Regions from separate parts of the Homo sapiens genome. Here region 2 is reported to be linked to region 1. The links are microRNA targets in miRTarBase. Many come from high-throughput screens and were not tested one by one. Region 1 holds a microRNA gene; the other region holds the end of a gene's coding sequence.

Region 1 (3,403 bases):
ACATGTGGAGCTTCCAGAGTGCCCCTTGCCCATCCCTATCTTGGATCCCAGATCTCAAGCCAGAATAGCCCATACCCAGTTAATACATTTAGCGTTTGCTGATTGAGCACTTACATGTCCTGAGATGGGTCAGGTCTTAATGAAAGACAGAACCTGTGCCTCCAGGAAGCACACCATCTGGTGGAAGTCAAAGGACAGCAGCCAGCTGATAAGGAACACGTGTTAAGTCCAAGGCAATCTGGAAGCAAAGGCGTGGGGCACGGACACGTCAAGGGAAACTTCCCGGAGGCAGCAACTTCTCATCTGGGGTGTGTGTGTGTGTGTGTGTGTTTGAGACAGAGTCTCACTCTGTCACCAGGCTGGAGTACAGTGGCGCAATCTTGGCTCACTGCAACCTCTGCCTCCCAGGTTCAAGCGATTCTCCTGCCTCAGCCTACCGAGTAGCTGGGACTACAGGCGCGCGCCACTATGCCCAGCTAATTTTTTTTTGTATTTTTAGTAGAGACGGGGTTTCACCATGTTGGCCAGGATGGTCTCGATCTCTTGACCTTGTGATCTGCCCACCTTGGCTTCCCAAAGTGCTGGGATTACAGGCATGAGACACCGTGCCCGGCCAGCCTCATCTGGTTTTATGAGGGAACCAGGCAGTTGAGAGGTGTGCATGGTTGGTGGAATAGGGCATTCTAGGCCAAACCACTATGATGGGAGAACTGAGTGGGGTAGGAGGTGGGGGGAACTGCAAATAACACACAGTTGATGCCAAGTGTGCCAGAGGAAAAGACAGAAGATGAGGGCAGTGGGAGGCAACCGCCTAAAGGCTTGTTTTACAGAAATCCAGGGTTATGTAACCAGCAAGGGAGGTGGGCGGGGCGGGCTTCAATCCAATGAGCCTGGCTTCAAAGCCTGGGGGTGGTCTGAGGACAGAGCACAGCAGGAGCTCCTGAGAAGCCTGCTAAAAAGTCAAAGTCTGGGCCACACCCAGACCAACTGAATTAGTAGGATCTGGACCCCAGGAACATACATTATTTTCACAAGTGCCCCCAGTGACTCTGATGCACACTACAGTTAGAGACCCACCACCCAGAGCCCTCCCACCTCTCCACTCTACCCTTGCTGATGTGGACTGACTCTCAATGCCCCCAAGAAGTAGGATGATTCATTTCCATGGCCATGGATTATGCTTTCAGAAACACTCCCAAACAACCCGGGGAGTTCTGGGAATCACAATCAGATGGGGATGGGGAGGACAGGGGGAGCAGATCAGGAGAAGAAATTTCCGGCCAGGTGGGAGGAGGTAGGGTTTTTTGTTTTTTGTGGAGGGGGTTGCAGGCATAGGGTAGGAGGTCCTGTTCAGGCACTCAGCAAACAATCCCCAGTCCCCAGCTCTTCCCAGGACTCAAGGACAAGAGGCAAAGAACCACGGAAACAGCCGTTTTTATTCCACAAACAGTAAACTCCATCCACTACACAGTGACATACACTGTGTAGCACACCCCATCACCTTGGCCAGTGCTGCCAGCCGACCTTTCTGTGGTGATGGAAATCTTTTTCTGTGCTGTCCAATACAGCAGCCACCGACCACTTTTGCTTATTGAGCACCTCAATATAGAGGTGGCCACTACAGGTGAGGAAATGAATTTCTAAGTTAATTCAAATTCAAATGCCACATTTGGCTCGTGGCTCCTGTACTGGACAACACAGCTGTAGGCCCTGACCTGGTCCAGGGCACTTTGGTTCAAAAGCCAACTCTGAGGAGAGCAAGTGGCAGAAACAGCCCTTGGGCTCCCCTCCCCAGAGAGAAACGGCAGCTGCAGCTGCTGGAAAGGGCAAGAATCAGAGTGGGGGGACACCTCGGGCGCGCCGGATAAGGTTGGCCAGCCGCTTGGCCAGGCCACCTGTGCGGGGCTCCTCGATGTGGAAGGTTCGGGTGAGGAGATTGTAGAAGGAGCCATAGCACACGGCCACCACAGTGCACGTGAGGCAGATCACGTTGTAGGGCATGCTGAAGTCCGGTGTCGGCAGGTTCACCAGCAGCGGCTCCGTGTAGAGCCGCACAAAGTAGTTAGAGCCATCAGAGACTGGGAACCTGGGGTCAGGGGAAGAGCGGTGAGACAGGACTGGCTGCTCCTCCCCATCTCACCCCATCCTCATTCCGGCAGTATTGGGCAATGCAACACAGTGTTTCCAATGTTCTCTTAGGCTCAAAACCTTTCAACAGAAGGCATAGCTCAATCTCTAAACCTGATAAAGGGGAGCGGCGGGCGGGGGGCAAGGGGAGGGAGAGCATTAGGACAAATACCTAATGCATGCGGGGCTTAAAACCTAGATGATGGGTTGATGGGTACGGCAAACCACCGTGGCACATATATACCTATGTAACAAACCTGTATGTTCTGCACATGTATCCCAGAACTTAAAGTAAAATAAAAAATAAATAAGAAAGAAAGAAAGAGAAAGAAAGAAAGAAAGAAAGAAAGAAAGAAAGAAAGAAAGAAAGAAAGAAAGAAAGAAAGAAAGAGAAAGAAAGAAAGAGAGAGAAAGGAAAGAAAGAGAGACGCCTGGTGTTGAGGTGGAGGAAAGGGGCCCCGCCTTTGCTTGGTTGCTTCTTTCTTAGCCTGGTTTCAGCCTAAATGCCACCTCCTAAATGAAGCCTTCCTAGATAACCCAGTAAATCAATTCCTACCCAACCTCTAACCCCATTACTCTCTAGACCAGAATCTTCCTTCTAGACTGTAAGCAAAGGGAGGCCAGGGCCAAGTCTGTTTTGTTTAATCTTGCACACTCAGTGCTCTCAGAAGCACTTGGCATTTGATAAGTGCTTGATTAAATATTTAAGAGCATCAAGAAGTAAATGTAGGCTGTAAGTAAAAGTATTCTTCTAGAAGCACTTTAAAATCATTTTATAAAGTCTTCACAAATTCCACAGACTGCCAGGATTTTTATTAGGATTGAATTAAATCTACACATCTCTTTGGAAGATGTAACATCTACCCTGAACTCCCCTGCAGGAGCCTGGTCACCTGTGTTAAGGCCCAGCAGGCAGCTGAGGATGTGTTATCAGTGAGTGTGGTCACACTTACAGGCTGTTGAAGAGGGGACTCTCTTCCCAGTCCACTGGCTTGGCTGCTACCATGCTGGGCACAAGGGCGCTGAGGACAGATGGGCTACAGAGAAGCAGAGAGATGGCCCGTGTTCCCATCTGGCTGCCCTATCAAGGGGTAAGCAGCAGAAAGGGTAGGTCAGGGGGATGAGAGGTGGCCTGTGGGGGTGGAGCCCACCTGACATAGAAGCCATGGTTAGGATCTGGCGTGTACTCGGTCCACTTCAGCAGCGCCCGCTCAAACTGGATGGAAACCTTGGTGACTGAGTTGGCCGGCAGCTGAATCAGCATCTCCAGGAGGTG
Region 2 (3,403 bases), not on the chromosome of region 1:
TGGACTCTCTTATCATTTGGTTCTTGTACCAGGACACAGACCAACCCCTTAGCTAAAAGGAACTCCCTGTTGTTTTTGCCTTTCCTCTACTGTAGTTGGATTCCTACAGTATTTTTCTGTAAAATAACCATTCCTATTTCTTAAGCATCAATGAAAAATAATAGTATTTTTCTTCTTCCAAAAGCTTGCCACTGCTTGGTTAAAAGAAGGGAGGGGGTGGGGAGATTGATGGGGGCAGGGAGGTTCACGATGCCATTACTTGAGCTGGCAGCCTCTTTGCTGCCCAACTTCAGGGAAATGATAGGAAGAGCAGGTATAATCAGGACAAGAAGGTCCCCAGGTTAGAGGGAGAGCAGTCATTCTGCCTGCTGACTTTAAAATGCTTTCTTGTCCTCTTATTTTAGAATGCAGGTCTGGTGACTGTCACTACCACTCCTCTCAACTGTGGCCCTCGACTGAGGGTGCTCCTGGGCCGCCCCGCACATGAAAAGCTGCTGATGCTGCTCCCCGTGGGGTACCCCAGCAAGGAGGCCACGGTGCCTGACCTCAAGCGCAAACCTCTGGACCAGATCATGGTGACAGTGTAGGCAGGGCCCCCCAAGGGAGTGGCAGGGAGATGGCGCCCCTGCTTTTCCCTGAGCCTCTCGCCTGCTCCTCTTGGGTCTCTTGGCTGCTCTTTCTCCAGGTGTCAGGTCCCCTCATTGCTCTTCTCAGGTGGCCACACTATGTCAAGAAGCCTCTCCACACTCTGTGGCACTTCCAGTCCCATAAATCCTGTTTCTTATCCACTTTGGAAATGCATGAACACTTTACAAAGAACATGCCCGGGTTTTTACATTTTAAAAGTTATTCTAGACAATCACTATTGGCTTTTTTCTTTTATTTTTAAAAAACTCACATAGAGGAGACAATCAGAAATTTACCATAGTCCCAAGAATTCAGCTACATGATGACTCGAATTTAAATTTAGATTAATCAAATGGTCTCCTGTTCTCTGATTTCTGGTGGCTTTTAGACACTAATTTTTGAGAACTACTTTTTTTTTTTTACCAAACTTCAGGGACACTCTGCTAGTTTTGAATAAGTAACCATCAAAGTTACTAAAACATGGCCAGGCGCAGTGGCTCATGCCTGTAATCCCAGCACTTTGGGAGGCCGAGGTGGGCAGATTGCCTGAGCTCAAGAGTTCGAGACCAGCCTGGCCAACATGGTGAAACCCCATCTCTACTAAAAATACAAAAAATTAGCTGGGCATGCACTTGTAATTCCAGCTACTCAGGAGGCTGAGGCAAGAGAACTGCTTGAATCCGGGAGGTAGAGATTGCAGTGAGTCAAGATGCTGAGATGCCACCACTGCACTCCAGCCTGGGCAACAGAGCGAGAACCTGTCTCAAAAAAAACAAAAACAAAGTTACTAAAATGTCACCTTCACAGAACAGGACAGGGTACCCTTGGGTCGCACGGGCCTGGCTGGCATGTAAACGGTCAGTTGCACTGCCTAGTGGTTTGGTAGATCTGACTTGTAAGCAGTTCATAGAAGCTGCTCAATACTCAAGAATCTTGCAAGACAGTTATTAAACATTCATAGCTTGAAATTGCCCATGGTGGGAGAGTTTACATCACAACCACTACAAATCAGCACTTGCTTTCTTCTTCTTAAAGAGAGCTGCTTACCATACATAGCACCCACAGTGTCTCCCTTCTCTTCTACCCCAACCCCTGAAACACACTGACCCCTATTCTCCAGATGACAGCACAGCTGTTTGGGACTGATAGGGTCACAGTTGCCAGGTTGGGAATGCTAGATGTAGTCTTCACCCATCACCTTCTGTCGTCCTCCCAGGGGTGTCATATTTACAGAGGCAAACTCTTACAGCTTGGATGATTTCTCATCAAGCAACTCTACTCACCTCTTTTTCCCCTTTCCCTGTGCGTTTCTTCTTCTTGTCCTCATTTTCCTTGAGAAAACTCTCTCTATAAAAAATTTCCATAGAGTATGTGGCTGATAAACAACAGAAATTTGTTTCTCACAGTTCTGGAGGCTGGAAGTCCAAGGTCGGGGTGCCCTCATGGTCAGGTGCTGGTGAGGACCCTGATCTGGGTTGCAGACTGCTGACTTCTTATTGTGTCCTCGTGGTAGAAAGAGGGTTAGAGCCTCTGGCATGCCTTTTATAAGGGTACTAATCCCATCATGAGGCCCCGTCCTTATGACCTCATCACCTCCCAAAGGACCCCCTCCTAATACCATCACATTGGGGGTTAGGGTTTCAACATATGAATTGCGGGGGACACAAACATTCCGTCCATGGCACCTACTTCATAGGGTTTGGCATGCTGCTCGGTACATGGTTAACATTCATAAATGGTGGGGGCCCTTACTGTGGTAGAAACCATTGTCACTGCAAGGCAGCCCTGCTTGGGATTCAGGTGAACAAATGTAACGTGGGTGGGTGAGGGACTCCCTCCTCTTCAGAGAAGCCCTCCTGTGGCTCAGGGGCAGCTGCAGGGCCAGATGGAGTTGGCCTGCAGGGAGTCAGCCTTACCCCATCAGAGACCAACTTGAAAGATTTTTTTCTCTGTGTAGTTCGTGTTATCAATCTGATCTGCAGCCAGGTTATTTACTTCTGAAGCATTGGAGTTATCGATTGCCATTGCCCCATGGTTCTCACTCTTTGCAGGCACTCTTCAAATTTTTATTTTAAAAATTATAATGCAAACATCTGGCCATCACCTTAACCAAGTGACAAAGTCCTAGCACACCATTAATGGTAGGATAACTGACATTAAGTGTTCCTGCTGGGATGAATTATGAAGTATTCCTTCCAAAGATGTCAATGGAAACTAATCGAGTCTTACACCTAATTTTCAGTTTACAGTAAATACAGAGGATAAAGAAGTTAATGGCATGGTGGAATAACCAAAATGTGTATCATTCTACAAAAAAATAGGCCTGGACTATTTAAGGAGTGAGTGTCACTGTGGGAAGAATAAGAGGGGGACTGTCTTGTCCTTGCTACTCAAAGAGTGGTCCTGGGCCTGTATCATCATTGGGACCACCTGGGCGCTTGTTAGAATCAAAGACTCTCAGGCCTCACCTAGACATCCAGAATCAAAATCTGCATTTTAACAAGATGCCCAGGTGATCTGCATGCCTGTTAAAGTCTGAGCTCTGTTGCAGATAACCAGAGACCCAACAACCAAAGGCAAAGCGTAAGCCTTGATTGGATTTTGGTTTAGGAAAAATCTCATAGGTATAAAAGACAACTGGGAATGTTGAATGTGGATCTGGTGGTAGGTGATATTGTTAGTGATGTGAGTGATGCCTGCTGAAGTACTGAGAGATGAAGCATCATATTGACAACTTACTCCAGGAAAAAAGGTGTGTGTATAGGTGTGTGTTTGG

Evidence for each region. The annotated mature microRNA hsa-miR-6812-3p reads CCGCUCUUCCCCUGACCCCAG and lies in region 1 at 2,087-2,107, opposite strand. An mRNA with a match to its seed (bases 2 to 7 or 8) in the 3' UTR can be bound and repressed. Matches are read on the target gene's strand: a 7mer-m8 pairs with bases 2 to 8, a 7mer-A1 pairs with bases 2 to 7 and ends in A, and an 8mer does both.
Region 2: the mRNA of IYD is a reported target of hsa-miR-6812-3p. Seed matches in the 3' UTR shown: 7mer-A1 at 1,375-1,381.

What each region holds. Positions count from the first base shown.
Region 1 is chr20:45,424,257-45,427,659 of GRCh38, reverse strand. MIR6812 (microRNA 6812) reads right to left here and starts at 2,150; the gene lies at 2,087-2,150. It overlaps PIGT (phosphatidylinositol glycan anchor biosynthesis class T), which reads right to left. Exons shown (of 12, transcript NM_015937.6): 10 at 3,279-3,403; 11 at 3,081-3,164; 12 at 1,419-2,086. The coding sequence ends at 1,834. LOC105372631 (a long non-coding RNA gene) reads right to left here and starts at 238. Exons shown (of 4, transcript NR_159957.1): 1 at 115-238.
Region 2 is chr6:150,397,651-150,401,053 of GRCh38, forward strand. It overlaps IYD (iodotyrosine deiodinase), which reads left to right. Exons shown (of 5, transcript NM_203395.3): 5 at 405-3,403. The coding sequence ends at 587. Among named protein-coding and RNA genes, the nearest start is that of IYD, 30 kb to the left of the region's middle.